Linked DNA regions of Homo sapiens. The protein of the gene in region 1 purifies or fractionates together with the protein of each later gene. This does not show direct contact. Each region holds a gene or a part of one and is shown on either strand. Other genes may lie near its edges.

Region 1 (4,805 bases):
TAGGATAATTCCACCTGACTCCTAGGGTTGTGGTGAGGGTTAAATGAGACCAAATATGGCACAATGCCTGATATGCAGTAGGGATTCGATAAATGTTCTGGCCTTGGCCTAGCCTGGGGTCAGATTCCACTATACAGATGGCCTCTGTTAAGAAAACTACTTGGGGACAGGTCTGCCTCCCTCCCTCAAATCACCCTGAGGGAACCAAGCTACTACTAGCTACATGACTTTGGACAAGTCACTTCCTTTCCTGAGGAAGCCTGTTCCTCATATGTAATATTAAAGACTGGCCCAGATGATCCCTAAGGCAAGTCCCACTGACATTTTGTCAGTGTCCCCTCTGCCACTCCAGCAGCTGTTCAGACCTGGCCATTGATGGGGAAAGGTTTTTTTTTTTTTTGGGTGGGGGGGTGAATGGGGGAGTCAAGCCACAAATTTCCTCTTTAGGACACAAGAAGTGCATTCTCTGTGTCTGCCTCCCTGCCTGCCCTCTTCATTGCAAGGCCAGGGCTCCTGCACAGAAACCTTGGGTGAGCAGCACCCGCATGTCCTTCTTTGCTTGTAAGCCACCTCTAGGCACCCTTAGATAGCTCACCTGTTCCCACCGTAAGTCCGCAAACCACTTCTCTCCCTAGGAACCAAGCCATCTGGGAGCTCTCCCTGCTCCCTTTAATCCTCCTGCCTGTACTTTACAAATGGTACAAGTGGCAAATGGCCCCCAGACTTGGGAACAAACAAAAACCAGGTGGGCAGCAGCAGCAGCAGGAGGAGCAGCAGCAACAGTGGCTGCAGCTACTTAAGCAGCAGTAGGCACCCTCCTGGGCCCAAGTGGATCCTGTCCCTCCTAAGGGGGATGGGTGGGGCTGTCCTCGCTGTCCATTGGCTGGGAGCTGGGCACTGGCAGGCACGTGGCTCACCCCATCCCTCTCCCTCCTTCCCTGCCCACCCCACCCATTCCCGCTGCTAAACCCGCCTCCTTTCTCCCACCCCAGGGCCGGTCTCCGTGGCAACTTGGTGTGGTGGGGGCGCTGATTGGCTGACCTCACTGTCAGGTCACAGGCTCAGGCTCGTTCACCACGCAACTCACACAGGGATTGGGCAAGGGTGGGTGTTTAACTCCTTAGGCCCAAATCCAATGCCCATGGCCAAGAGGTAGCAATGAAAGAGGGGGAGAGGCAGAGGACATGTGTGGGAAGGAGAGGGTGTTCATAAGCTTCTCTAGCTTCTGGGAAACTCCCCTAACCCTTACCCAGGGCTCTAACACCCATGCCAATATAGGTGCCACCTGGAGCTATGGTGGTGCCAACCAGGCCAAGGGGCCCTCCTAGACCCATCATCTGGGAGGGATGGGTGGGGCAAAGGCCTCCCCCTTCTTTCTGCCAGGGCAGGGCACTGGTGCCAGGGTGCCCACCCTACCTTGGGCACCTTTCCCACCTCTGCATCCCAGAGGGCCCAGTCCCCTGACGCCCCATGAAGGCGGCCCATCCCCACCCAATCTGGCATGCCCCCTCTTGCTAAGACCTTGTGGGCATGGGTGTGTGTGGTGGTTGGGGGTGCAGCTGTGCCAGGGAACCGGGCAAGGTCTGTTTGGTCTGTTTGCCTGGTAGGGGGAAGAACTGGGGGCCCCACCCCATCACTCCCCTCTTTCCCGCCACCCCCCCAGGCTCCCCTCACTGTCAGGCCTGCTAGACCGGCCAAGCCGGTGGGCAGCTCTCTTGAAACTGGGCCCTGAGTCAAGCCTGCCCTGTCCTTGGTTGGGGGAAGACTTCAGGGTGAGAAAGTTGGGAGGGGGTAAAGGTGGGAGTGCCTATCACCTACCCTTCAGTGCTCAAGGGCACCTGGCAGGGTATGTCCAGCACCAAGAAACCAAAAGGTGGAGGCCACTGGCCTGGTCTTGGAAAGAAAAGGGAGATGGGAACTCTTTCCGGGTGCTGACCTCAGGCAGGGTCCAGTGCAGGGCTGGGGGCCACGAAGGCCAACACTGCTGGCTTGAGCCAGCCGAAGGGCAGGGATAGCAGGCCCTGAACAGGGCAGCTGAGTAAAGCTGACCCCCCTTTCCCCCACCCTGGGGATTAGGGGAGTGAGGCTTAGTGTGGGGGGCAGCAGGCGGAACCAGGATTAGCAGCAGAGAAAATAGATATGGGCCTGGGACACAGGCACGCAGAGCCCCCCCTCCCCAGGTTCCAAGGCCCCTACCTCTAGGCTCTGCCAGGGAGCCTGAGAGGGGCCTGGCCAGGCTTCTCCAGGAGCAGCAGCTTGGGGTGAGGGAGGATGAGGACCAGGCTGTAACATCTTCCTGCCAGGGATGATGGAGAGACCTGAGGCTCTTCCCAACGCTCCTGGTGCCTTGGCTGGCCACCCCTCCCCCTTACTTCTGTCTCCTTTCTCCCTCCACCCCCCCACCCCAACTCCAGCCTCAGGTTCTCTTCCTGTTTTTTTGGAGCTAAGTTTGCACGAAGCCATGGCTTTGGCCTGCGTCTGGACCAGGGGGGTGGGGAAATTGGACAGCCAGTCCAAAGTCCTAAGGGACCCAGGAATCCTTGTTCTCCAGCTTCCCCCACCGCTTCCCAGGGCCTCTGGGGCCCAGGAGCTGCAGCCATCTGGATTGCCCAGTTGGGGAGGGAAGGTAAAGGGGCTGAGCCTCTTCTCACATGAGGACTAGAAGGGCTTCAAAGAAGAGGTTCTCTGCCCAGGGATGCTCTGACATTTATGGAGCCCTTCTCTCCCCACCCCAGCCCCTCCAAGCTTGTGCATGCCTTCCCCATCCCCCATATGACGCTTCCCCCTCCTAACCTCACCACCCCCAGCACTCACACTTCCTGGGGGCCGAGGCGGGGAAGAGAGACCGCAAGCCACGAAGGGGGAAGGAGGCGAGGGGAGTTGGCTGCTTCCCGGTGCTGTGGGGGTTAAGTCTCTGCCCAGCTCCAAATCCCCCAGTCCTGGTTCTGGGGCTCCTGAAATGAGGGAGACCTTAATGCTTCCCTACATTTTCTTTCCATGACACCAGCCCTTGCCCATAGCCCCTTAGTCCCCATCAAGGGAAATATGAGGAAGATAAAAGATGGCGGAGGAAGGAATGGGGGCAACTCTCTCAGCCTTAGCGCCGCCACCTTTGGGTATTCCCTGCCATCATCCAGCCCTCACTCTTGCCCCTCTCTTGGCCTCCTGGTTCTGTCCCCTCATTGCCTCCTCCGACCCTTGTCTTCCCTCCACAAGTCCACCCTTTGCTTTCCTTCCTTCAGCCCTCCCTGAACTCCGCATCCTCTCCACCCCATCAGTGTCCCTAGGCCTCCTCCCAGGAACTGTCCCTGCCTCTCCTTTCTCTTCCCCTTGGTTCTCTCTTGCTCAAACTTCTCCACTTTCTCCATTGGCCCCCTGCTCCAACCATCCATTCCCTTCTTCCCAGGCATATGAGGGGTGGAGAGCCGCAGAGGAATTAAATCAGGGACCAGGCCTGCCTTCCAATGCCTGGTCTTGCCAAAAGATGGTTGAGTTTAGGGCACCCACACCCCACTTTTGGATGAAGCAGGGGACCACAATTTGGGAGCCAGTTGGGGAGAATGAGTGGTGGAGGGGGGTTTGCAGCGAGAGCGGATGTGGGGTGGGGGTGGGGGGACAACCTGTGCCTCTCTGCCCGTCAGAGTTTCCAGCCCTGGAGCTGCTGGACTTTCCCCGGAGGGTGCCCACCCTGGACCAGGCAATTGTCCACTTGGACAGACTCTGGCCATCAGGATTCTCAGCAGGGTCTGCCTGGACAGTGCCAGCTCCCCTTAGGGCCTGAGGAGACCGCACAAGGTGCCAGGGTCTGCCCTGTGCCCACCCCCTCCCCCCCAGCCTAGTGTCTCCGGCTGGGTAACCGAGCTGGCTGGTAACCCCACACCCGCCAAGCCGCCAGCAGAAACCTGAGCCCCCCAGCCCCAGAGGACACCCCAGCCCGATCTCCGGAGCCCGGCTCTCTGCCAGCCTGTCCAGCCTCCTGGCCTGGCCCAGCAATCACTCAGTCCCTATAGGCCCCTCTTCTGCCTCTCCTGATCTGCTCGGGTCCCCTTAAACACTGAGGCCTCCCCACATTCCCGCTTCTCAAGCCCTCAGTTCCCTAAACTCTCTTGTGAAGTCTGGGCACCCTCTTCCTGACCTGTTTTTCAGTCCTCTGACCCTTGGCTAATTCTAGGCCTCCAAGCCCCCCTGGGGCCTGATCTCCCAAGCCAGAGCAGGGCCTACTCACCTGAACGCTGAGGGGCCTGGCGGCAACTCCTCCTGGCCCCTGGGGGCAGCAGGTTGGGACAGGTGGGGGAGGGCCAGGCTTGGGGGGAGGTAGGGTGGCTGTTCCCCGCTCCAGCTCCCTCCTTCAAAGGGGCCGCCCACGACCTGGCCCAGCCCCTCCCCCCTACAGCCTTAACCCTCTGGGTGCTGTCCCCCCTCCCCCCAGCTTGGAGGGAGGGGTTACCGGAGGGCTGGCGGCGTGGGAGAGGGCCCAGAGTCTCTGCCTGTGGTGCCTGAAGCCCCAGCAGAACCCACCCACTCCTGTCCTTACTCAGTCCTAAAAGAGGAAAAAGGTGAGGGGTAGGAAAGGTAGGAGCTGGGACAGTCCAGGAGGACAGAGATGAGGAGGAGCAATGGGAGAGGCTACTGGAGGTGGGACCAGGAGAAGGAAGAAGGGAGGGGAGGGGACGGAGGCAGCTGTGGCTAGAAGAGGGAGGAGGGGAACCCTGGACAGTCAGTGCCAGGGGTGACAGGTGCCTGGGTCCCAGCCCCTCAGAGTATGTGGGATGGGGACCACAAGGAAGCCCTCTAGACCCCAGCAA
Region 2 (4,805 bases), on another chromosome or scaffold:
TGAAATCAGTGGTTCTAACAATGTGATTGTTGTGGTAAAGTATAACGAAATGTGCCAGTGTTTGGAAGGACTGCATATGGTATTTTTCCAATGACCAATGCACAATGTTACAAATTCTTTTTTTTGAAACGAGAAGGTTCTGTCACCCATACTGGAATGCAGTGGCGCGATCTCGGCTCACTGCAACCTCTACCTCCTGAGTAGCTGGGATTACAGGAGCATGCCACCATGCCCAGCTAATTTTTTTATTTTTAGCACAGACAGTGTTTTGCCATGTTGTCCAGGCTGGTCTCGAACTCCTGACTTCAGGTGATCCACCTACCTCAGCCTCCCAAAGTGCTGGGATTACAGGCATGAGCCACTGTGCCACCTGAATGTTACAAATTCTTGAGTGAATAAATGATTGATTCAAAGTAGACCAAATAATTTTAAGTAGCAAGTACCAAAAGCCAATTGAATATGGGTTTCAGATTCCATATTACAACTAATCTTTGGTTTTGGTATAGTACTAAAGAAGAAAATTCACAGCTATGTGAAAGACTATTTTCTACACATGAGGCCAGATTGTATGTTTCAACGTGGAATACAGAAGCAGATGAAATAATCCACTCTCTTCTGTTAAGCCAGACATTAAAGAGATTTGCAAAACTGTAAAGTAATACTACTCGCTATATATTTCGTCCTGAAGCATAATTATTTTTCTTTTTTTCTTTTTTCTTTTTTTTTTTGAGGCAGAGTCTTGCTCTGTCGCCCAGGCTGGAGTGCGGTGGTGCGATCTCAGCTCACTGCAAGCTCCGCCTCCCGGGTTCACACCATCCTCCTGCCTCAGCCTCCCGAGTAGCTGAGACTACAGGCGCACACCGCCACGCCTGGCTAATTTTTTGTATTTTTAGTAGAGACGGGGTTTCACCGTGTTAGCCAGGATGGTCTCGATCTCCTGACCTCGTGATCCGCCCGCCTCGGCCTCCCAAAATGCTGGGATTACAGGCATGAGCCACCTCGCCTGGCTGCATAATTATTTTTCATAAATATGCTACTTACTAGTATGTAGTAGCTTTATGGTTTTTGTTTTTGTTTTTTGTTTTTTTTTTTTGAGACAGAGTCTTGCTCTGTTGCCTAGGCCAGAGTGCAGTGGCGCGATCTCGGCTCACTCCAAGTTCCGCCTCCCAGGTTCACACCATTCTCCTGCCTCAGCCTCCCGAGTAGCTGGGACTACAGGCACCCGCCACCACGCCCGGCTAATTTTTTGTATTTTTAGTAGAGATGGGGTTTCACCATGTTAGCCAGGATGGTCTCGATCTCCTGACCTCGTGATCCGCCCACCTCAGCCTCCCAAGGTGCTGGGATTACAGGCATGAGCCACCGCGCCTGGCCGCTTTATTGTTATTTTTAATGGACCTATAAGTATTTACAATTTTTCTGTTTATTTTTATAACATAGGTGTCTGTAGATATAAACCTGTTGAATAGAAACTGATGGAATTTTTGGTTTTTAAGTGTAGGAAATGGTCCTGAGACCAATATGTTTTGAGAATCACTTTTTTAATGTATTGGCTTAAATTTCAAATTTTTGCATTTTCATTTTTGTTGTTGTTGAAATAGGGTCTCACTCTGTCACCCAGGCTGGAGTGCAGTGGTGCCATGTCAGCTCACTGCAGCCTCGACCTCCTGGGCCCAGGCAGTCCTCCCACTTTAGCCTCCTGAGTAGCTGGGAGTACAGGCACGCGCGCACCATCACACCCTGACTATTTTTGTACTTTTTGTAGACATGGGGTTTCGCCATATTGCCCAGGCCAGTCTCAACTTCTGGGCTCAAGCAATCTGCCTGCCTGAGCCTCCCAAAGTGCTGGAATTACAGGTGTGAGCCACCACACCCAGCCCGATTTTCTTAAATAAGCTATAAATGTACTAAGAGTCGACCTTAGAAATATTGATATTATTCACATTTTTCTTTTTAGTTATCTGTGCATTTTCATCCCTCCGTGGCCCTTTTTGCAAAGACCATCCTTCAGGTGAGTCTAAAATAAATCCAAAGATGAGAAATAAGAAAAAAAGTATCATTTTAGATAATCAATAATTGGTCATACAGTGTTTTCTCTAACAGAGAGAATCTTGTACATTTTACTGCTCGTATAAAGAAGCAGTGACTTGTTTCATACAGAGTAGCAGATAACTTTTCCCACTCTGAGATGAGTGGAAGCAATAAGACATTGAAAGCCACGCAGTTATTTATTTATTACCTTCTAGCTCCTCTCCTGGAGAAATACTGCCTCACTTTCCCATTTGCTGTGTTTGCCACTTCAGGGTTTGGTTCCTGATTAATGGTTAGATGGCCTGCATTATTAATATTAGTCTATCCATCAAATCAACATTACATCCTAGAATATGTATGTATATGTATCTGTGTGTTTAATTTTTTAAGTATAATGTGCATGAGAGAGATATTTGAAGAGTCATTTATTGCATATTTGTATCTTCAATACAGTGTAATAGAAATTATCTTTTTCTTCCTTTTTCTTACTTGGATTCATAGACATAATTTGAATTAAGTTTTTAAATCCCCGCTCCACTTTTCAGGGAAACTATATTCAGTATTCAGGGGACCCACTGCAGGATTTCACTCTAATGAGATTTTTGGATCGATTTGTATACCGAAATCCAAAGCCCCATAAAGGCAAAGGTATGCTTCTATTTAGTGAATTATTTGGCTTTCATTTTTAATACATAATAAACAATATGAGCTTATAACTAGGTTTTGCATTATACTGTCATAATTTTACATTTCAGAAAACACAGATAGTGTTGTGATGCAGCCGAAAAGAAAACATTTTATTAAGGATATTCGTCATCTTCCTGGTAAGTATAAACCTTAGACAGTTGAAACTGAAAAGACAATATAAGACAAAGATGCATAAATTGTATTATTCTTTGTTCTAATTTATCAGAATAAAACCTGAGCATCAAAGACATTATCCATCTTTTTTCCCAAGAATAGGTATTCTTAAATCTACTGTATCTGACTGGGCCTTTTTTTTTTTTTTTTTAACTTTATTACAGCAAATTTGAAACATATCCAAAATAAACAAAATAGTATGATGAACCCCCTCCCCATTACCATCACCCAGCTTTGACAGTTGTCACCATTTTATCATCCGTAGCTTCATCCACAACCCCTATGTATATAATTATTATTGCTTACAATTCAGACCATCTTAAAGCTCTCTAATATCAGCTTAGCAGCACAAAAACCCACAGCTGGTTTTGTCACAGAGCATCATTTTAAACTTAATAACCTACTTCTATATTTGCTAGCCATCTTCTGGATCTGAGTCTGTTGTTGTATTCAAAGCAGACATTTCTTTGCATACCAGATCTCATCTCCCTTTTGTTCAGAGACCAGGATTAAATTAGACCTTATAGATCATTTAATTTCCAGTGACTTACTTCACAGAGGTCCAGAGATGTAAAAGGACTTACCCACAGTTAGTAAGTTAGAATTAAAAGCCAAATCTCCTTTTACTCAGGATGAGTCAGCAATTTTTATTCTGAAGAGGTAAAACTGATTTCTTGTAGTTCCTTATTTCTTAGTTTTCCTCAGTATAAAGGAAAACTCTGTTAACTTCCTGTTTATTCCCAGAATGGCACGCATTAATGGCAAGCTTGTCATTTTTTGAGCTGAAAATGACAAGTTTAAAGTGATTATTTATTAAAATAACTCTTTGAATTTTTTATTTCTCTTGAAAGTTGGGTCCTGGATGCAAATGAAGAACAGTAAGAGAACCCTGTTGTTTCACTGTAACGGCACTGACAGCTATGTACTGCCTACTTTATGCTGTAGCCAGTGAAGTTTCAAATGTTGGGGGGGTCTTCACACAGACTTTTTCAGAGATTGTCCCTTGCACTCCAGAGTCCCTTCTGTCTACCTTCCCACACAATTCTGAGATTTTTAGAATTACAGATTATGCTGTATTTTGTCTTAAGAGCTTGAGTAACATAAAGGGGATTGCTATATGAAGTTAAAATGTTTAAATTTATTTTTGTAGTGAACAGTAAGGAGTTCCTTGCAAAAGAAGAAAGCCAAATACCAGTGGATGAAGTGTTTTTCCACAGGTACTATACATAATATAGTTTCATTTGGGGAAACTGCTAAAATTTAAATTTTTAGATTTCATAAAATGCTTCATTTTATGAAATAATCTACTTCAATAATCTACTACTGTGTGTAAATAGACCATGGAACATTAGTGGGAGAAGTGGCCTTAGTTTTAAATGCTTCATTTTATGAAATCTAATCAGCATATTTTGAAAAGATCAAAGGATATGTCTGTGTTTGTTAAGAAAATTTACAAATCCGTCATTTTGCTAATCTTAATATATCTTAGTAAAACTAAAGTAAATTTGGGAGTTTTGTTAATTTAGCATATAAATTTTGTTTTATGCTTCTTTTTGGAATTTAGCCTTTAATTTCCTTTTATAATAATTTTCTTTATAGGCTTAAAATCTACCTTTAATATAGATTTTAATATAATACTTTAAGTTTAATATAGTGATAACTCATGGGTAATTTATCCAGACCATGGCCCTTAGAATGGATTCAGTGCACTGTTATAGAAATAAGTCCTAAACCAACTAGTATCATAACCTAATGCCTTAGGGTAGTAAAGTACCTCTTATCTCATCTGGTTGACTGGTTAATTAGGTTTGATTTGGCTTGTTTTTTAAAATCATTTAGAATGAATAATTTTGAGGGTTTGATTACATCTGTAAATGGCTAAGTTTTGCTGTATTCTAATATAAGAATAGGGC
Region 3 (4,805 bases), on another chromosome or scaffold:
TTTTCAAGGTTCATCTGTGTCATGGTATGTGTCATTACCTCATTTCTTTATATATGGCTGAATACTGTTCCACTGTATGGATATACCACATTTTATTTATCTACTGGTGGACATTTAGGTTGTTTACACTTTTTGGCTATTATGAATATTGCTGCTGTGAACATTTGTGTAGGTAGTATTTTGTGTGGAAATGTTTTCTTTTGGGTATGTACCTGGGACTGGATTGCTGGGTTATATGGCAATTGGGTTTAACCGGTTTTCCAAAGAGACCATACCGTTTTACATTCTCATCAGCAATGTGTTGAGAGTCCCAATTTCTCTCTAGCGCCACCAACCTTATTATTGCCCATCTTTCTGATTACAGCCATCCTAGTGGGTGTGAAGTGGTATCTTTTTATGGTTTTGGTTTGTAGTTCCTACTGCATATCTTTGTAGTAGTATTTATGATGAAATGGGAAGTATGCCTTAATAAAGCATTTTTGCTGCATATCAAAATAAGAATTGTCTTTAAAAAACCACTTTTTTCCCTCAGTTATGCAGTTCTGTGAGTTGCAAGCTGAACTAGATGCTATTTTCATCAAATACTGTTTTTACTTGAAAGAATGATAAACTGTGGTCTTGAGATTAATGTACTTAAGTGACAGATATTTCCTCAAAAAAAAAAAAAAAATGAAGTGAGCCTGTCATGTGAAGGAAAAAAACTGGAAAGCATTTGCTGCTGCAGATGACAAAATTTGTGCTTTCCAGTGAAAATTAGAATTTTAGAAAACTCAAATCTATTATGAGCTTGATACCTTCTTAATATTTTTCTGATGAGATGGATAGTGATACTAACAAAGCTTTTTTGATACTGTATTTTAATGTAATGTGCTAACACTTGGAAGATCTGTATGATAGTTCAGTGAACCGGCAGTTTTCAGATGACCAACTCATTATATTATAAAATCATGCATGAGTAAAAGATCCATTCAAAGTGCGAGATAGACCAATAACAGTATAGAAAGTTTACAGGTAGTGTCAGATTCCACATTTGGACTGAACTTGAAGAAACTGCCACCTGTTAAGTTTGGTGTAGTATTCAAAGAAAACCCACAATTGGCTGAAAGGATATTAAGTTATTCTTGCCCTTTCCAGGTAGATATCCGTGAGTAGATACTCTTCATATGGTTCAGCCCGAACCATATTGCAAGAGATTGAATGCAGGAGCAGATCTGAGACTTTAAATGTCTTCTTTTATTCACTCTAGACATTACAGAGATTTGTGAAAATGTAAAACATGGTTTTCTCATTAAACTTTTTTTGTTGTTTTGAAAAATGTTTTTCATAAAATGTTAATTTATGTTAACGTGTAATGGATTTATTTTTAAATGAACTAAATTTAAATTTCTGTTTATGATATGGTAAGTATCAGTATACACATATACTACATGAACAGAAGTTTTTTGTGAACGTCAGTAATGTGTAAGTTTGGAAAGGAGTTCTGAGACTAAAAGGTTTGAGTTAAGTGACAGACTACTGAAGACATAAAAGATAGTTTTTAGAAACTAGTTTTTAATGTGTGTACAAAATTAATGTTACAGCGTTCTATAGGTGTTAGAAAATAAATCTAGAAACTTTGATTTTTGTGGATTTATGTTGGTCATGAAATGAAGTTGGTATAAAGCACCAAGTTCTTCAGTAAAGTAATTTCTTTTCAAATGTTATCAGAATAGAAACACTGTGTATATTGAATACAAAATGGAATTTTAGTTTATTGAATGTTGCCCAGGAAGGGTAAAATAAATACTCCAGAAAGCCATTAAATTTGAATTTTGTCCTGATTTTAAAGGAACGGGGAAATTATTTGAGAAAGTAAAAGTTAAAGCAAGTGAGAATAAAAATGCTGTATAAGACATAGCATATTTAGTAATAAATTCATTTTGAGGATATAAACTTTCTCTTGGTATACTATCTTTCTAATTGGCAAGAAGGGAGATATGTTAAGATGCTTTTTCTCACTAGAAAATCAGAGCAAAACATTTTTGTTTCAGTGTTACGTGTAGTATGCCCAGATGAAAATGCTGAAAACTTTGACATCCTTGGTTTGCCTTTTTTACTTTTTTTTTTTTTTTTTAAGAGACAGGGTCTCTGTTTTCTAGGCTGGAGTGCAGTGGCATGATTATAACGCATTGTGATCTCAAACTCCTGGCCTGAGCCTCCTGAATGTGTAGAACTACAGGCTAGCGCCACCATGCCCAGCTAAGTTTTAAATTTTTTGTAGAGATGGCATCTTGCTATGTTGCCCAAGTTGGTCTTGAACTGCTAGGCACAAGCAGTCCTTTTGCCTTGGCCTCCCAAAGTGTTGGAATTATAGGCATGGGCCACTGTGCCTAGCCTGCACTTTACTTTTGATAAGCATGACATTAATGTAACAATTTCCCAAAATAAAGGAGAAAGTACTTTTTTTTTTTTTAAACCAGGGCTCTGGAACTTGCCTTTTTGTTTGTTTTTGTTAAGTTTAAAGGACCCCTTTAACAAAAATGACCTCTACTCGAGCCTGTATTAAGCAGTAAGTCTGACTTTGTTCCCTTCTTTTTTGGGGTACTTTTACTACTCCTTATCCTTTAGAAGGCAAATCTCCATCTTCCTGGAAACATCAGGCGCCAAGCTGAAACCCTACTAATCTTACATATTTCTGTCCATTTGTGGCCCACTGAGAAATGCATGCTGTTTTAGGAAACTTCATTGTTGTCTCATTTTTACTTTATCGTTGCTGTATATTTGAAACTGGGTAAGAGGAGGCAAAGTGTGAATTTATGTATCTTTCCAATGTCAAAATTTCCCCCAAATTTAAGCCAAGACTTAATTCAGTCTCTCAAATTTTAGTCCTCTGTCAGATTTTGTTTTATCTAAAATACAGTTAATCTTTCAAGACTGGGCACATTTAAAATGGAGTCAGGTGTTTGAAGTTGGAAGAAGAGTTTATAGAAGTCATTTCTTCTTAAAAGCAAACAACTTAATGTTTAGAATTCCCCATTATTCATGAAAAACTGGATAGTTGCAGGTTAACTGGTAGCTATCTTTTTTTGAGAAAATAGAAGCCTTATAAAAGGCAGGCTTTTTTAACTTAATATTTAAGTATTTAAAGATTGACAGGCGAAAGAGGGATGGATCTCTTATGGGCTCCTACTCTATCGGGTACTGTTTAGGTGTTTTTAGGTGTATTATCTCATATAATTCTTTCTTACATTAATCTATTTACTATTCTCACGGTTGGATAGGAAAGTAACTGGCCCAAGGCTTCACAACTAGGCTTTGTTCTTTTCACTCTCCTATAGTGTCTTGGCAGTGTGCTCTTTAATTTATATCAGTATTGTATTTTTCTTCCCTTTTTTTGGTTATTTTTATTTCAGATTTTTTTTTTTTCCTTTTTGAGGGTAAAATACTAGCCTTGAATAAAGTATTTTCTACATGGTAAGTGGAGGAAATGTCTTCTGAAACATTTTTATTTGTGATTCTAACAAGGTGAAAGATAAATCCTTACTGATTTTACCTAAGGGATCACTGTCAGAACTGGTTGATTATAGAAATGCACAAATACTGCTAAAAGGCCAACCCTATTGCTTGAAAAGTAGAGTGTATGATGGAAATGTGGTCTTTTTAGAGTTACAAAAAGAATAGACAAAATGTGATGACTATGATCTGTGCTGATTTTAAGTAATTGGTAGATCTCCTTTTGCCCCTCTTACACAACATAAAAGGTTGTTGTGTAAGACTTTTACACTGTTGCTTTCTGTAGACTTTAAAGTTGTCTTATCAAAAATAACCTGAGGATGGTTTATTTAGGTATCATACCACTTAGCTTGGTTATGTCTGAGTTCCTGTTCATTTGTGAATCATGTATGTATTGCATGCTATGGTCTTTAAATTTTAGAAATTAAGATTTTTATTTTAATGCTTGGGGAAAACCTATTCATATTCTGATTTTCCAACGATTTTTTTGGTTTATTAATTTTGAGACTTATAATTATTTATTTTCTGTACTTAAAGTTGATTTGCTTACAAAAGTAATACATGGCTTGATATGGAAAACAAAAACATTATGGAAATATTTAATGTAGAAAGTGAAATTTTCTCTTATCTCTTAGGAATAAGACTTAGTGTCATATATTTTAAAATATTGTCATAATTATACTGCATATACACTTTTTACAATATTGCTTAATTTTTAGTTTTAGGAGGATGAAAATAGAATAGTCGCCCCCCTTATCAGTGAGGGATAGTTCAAAGACCCCCAGTGGATCCTGAAACCTCAGGGAGTACCAAACCCTATATACACTATGGTTTTTACTATATGGTAATGAGTGGGTAGCATGTATAGTGGATAGGCTGGACAAAGGAATGATTCATGTCCCAGGTGGGATGGAATGAGACAGCATGAGATTTCTTAGTGCAAAGAATGGCATGTAATTTAAAACTTGCGAAGTCTTTATTTCTGGAATTTTTAATTTCATGTTTTCAGACTGTGATTGACTATGGGTAACAAACCATTGTGGAAAGCAAAACCTTGGATAAGGGTATAAGGACTTCCTATACTTGCTAAGTATTTAGGTCAAGAATTACATCCTATTTAATTAGCTATTAATATAGATAAAAGTACCCTACATGCAGAAAAACCCAGAGTTAGATTCATTGCTGAAAACAAGAGCCTGGAGTAGGGCTCTTTTTTGTTAAAGGGGAGCTACAAAAAGTTGTTGCTGTTTGTTATCCTGAGGTATGACTTAAATGAAGATTTACGGAGATGAGACGATGATGCAGGAAAATAG

Evidence for each region. Proteins that work in one complex are often made in the same cells at the same time.
Region 2: the proteins of ZBTB7B (region 1) and CEBPZ purify together in Homo sapiens (affinity purification with mass spectrometry, with the first as the bait; one study listed by BioGRID). This does not show direct contact.
Region 3: the proteins of ZBTB7B (region 1) and SP3 purify together in Homo sapiens (affinity purification with western blotting, with the first as the bait; one study listed by BioGRID). This does not show direct contact.

What each region holds. Positions count from the first base shown.
Region 1 is NC_000001.11:155,008,407-155,013,211, reverse strand, and holds part of ZBTB7B (zinc finger and BTB domain-containing protein 7B), read right to left. Parts: intron 4,619-4,805; exon of another isoform or gene 4,265-4,618; coding exon of another isoform or gene 4,226-4,264; intron 2,955-4,225; coding exon of another isoform or gene 2,815-2,954; intron 2,752-2,814; exon of another isoform or gene 2,464-2,751; coding exon of another isoform or gene 2,197-2,463; intron 1,636-2,196; exon of another isoform or gene 596-1,635; intron 1-595. UniProt on the Homo sapiens protein: Transcription regulator that acts as a key regulator of lineage commitment of immature T-cell precursors. Exerts distinct biological functions in the mammary epithelial cells and T cells in a tissue-specific manner.
Region 2 is NC_000002.12:37,214,190-37,218,994, reverse strand, and holds part of CEBPZ (CCAAT/enhancer-binding protein zeta), read left to right. Parts: intron 1-1,957; coding exon 1,958-2,011; intron 2,012-2,576; coding exon 2,577-2,679; intron 2,680-2,786; coding exon 2,787-2,855; exon of another isoform or gene 2,856-3,674; intron 3,675-4,042; coding exon 4,043-4,109; intron 4,110-4,805. UniProt on the Homo sapiens protein: Stimulates transcription from the HSP70 promoter.
Region 3 is NC_000002.12:173,947,967-173,952,771, reverse strand, and holds part of SP3 (transcription factor Sp3), read left to right. Parts: intron 1-4,805. UniProt on the Homo sapiens protein: Transcriptional factor that can act as an activator or repressor depending on isoform and/or post-translational modifications. Binds to GT and GC boxes promoter elements. Competes with SP1 for the GC-box promoters.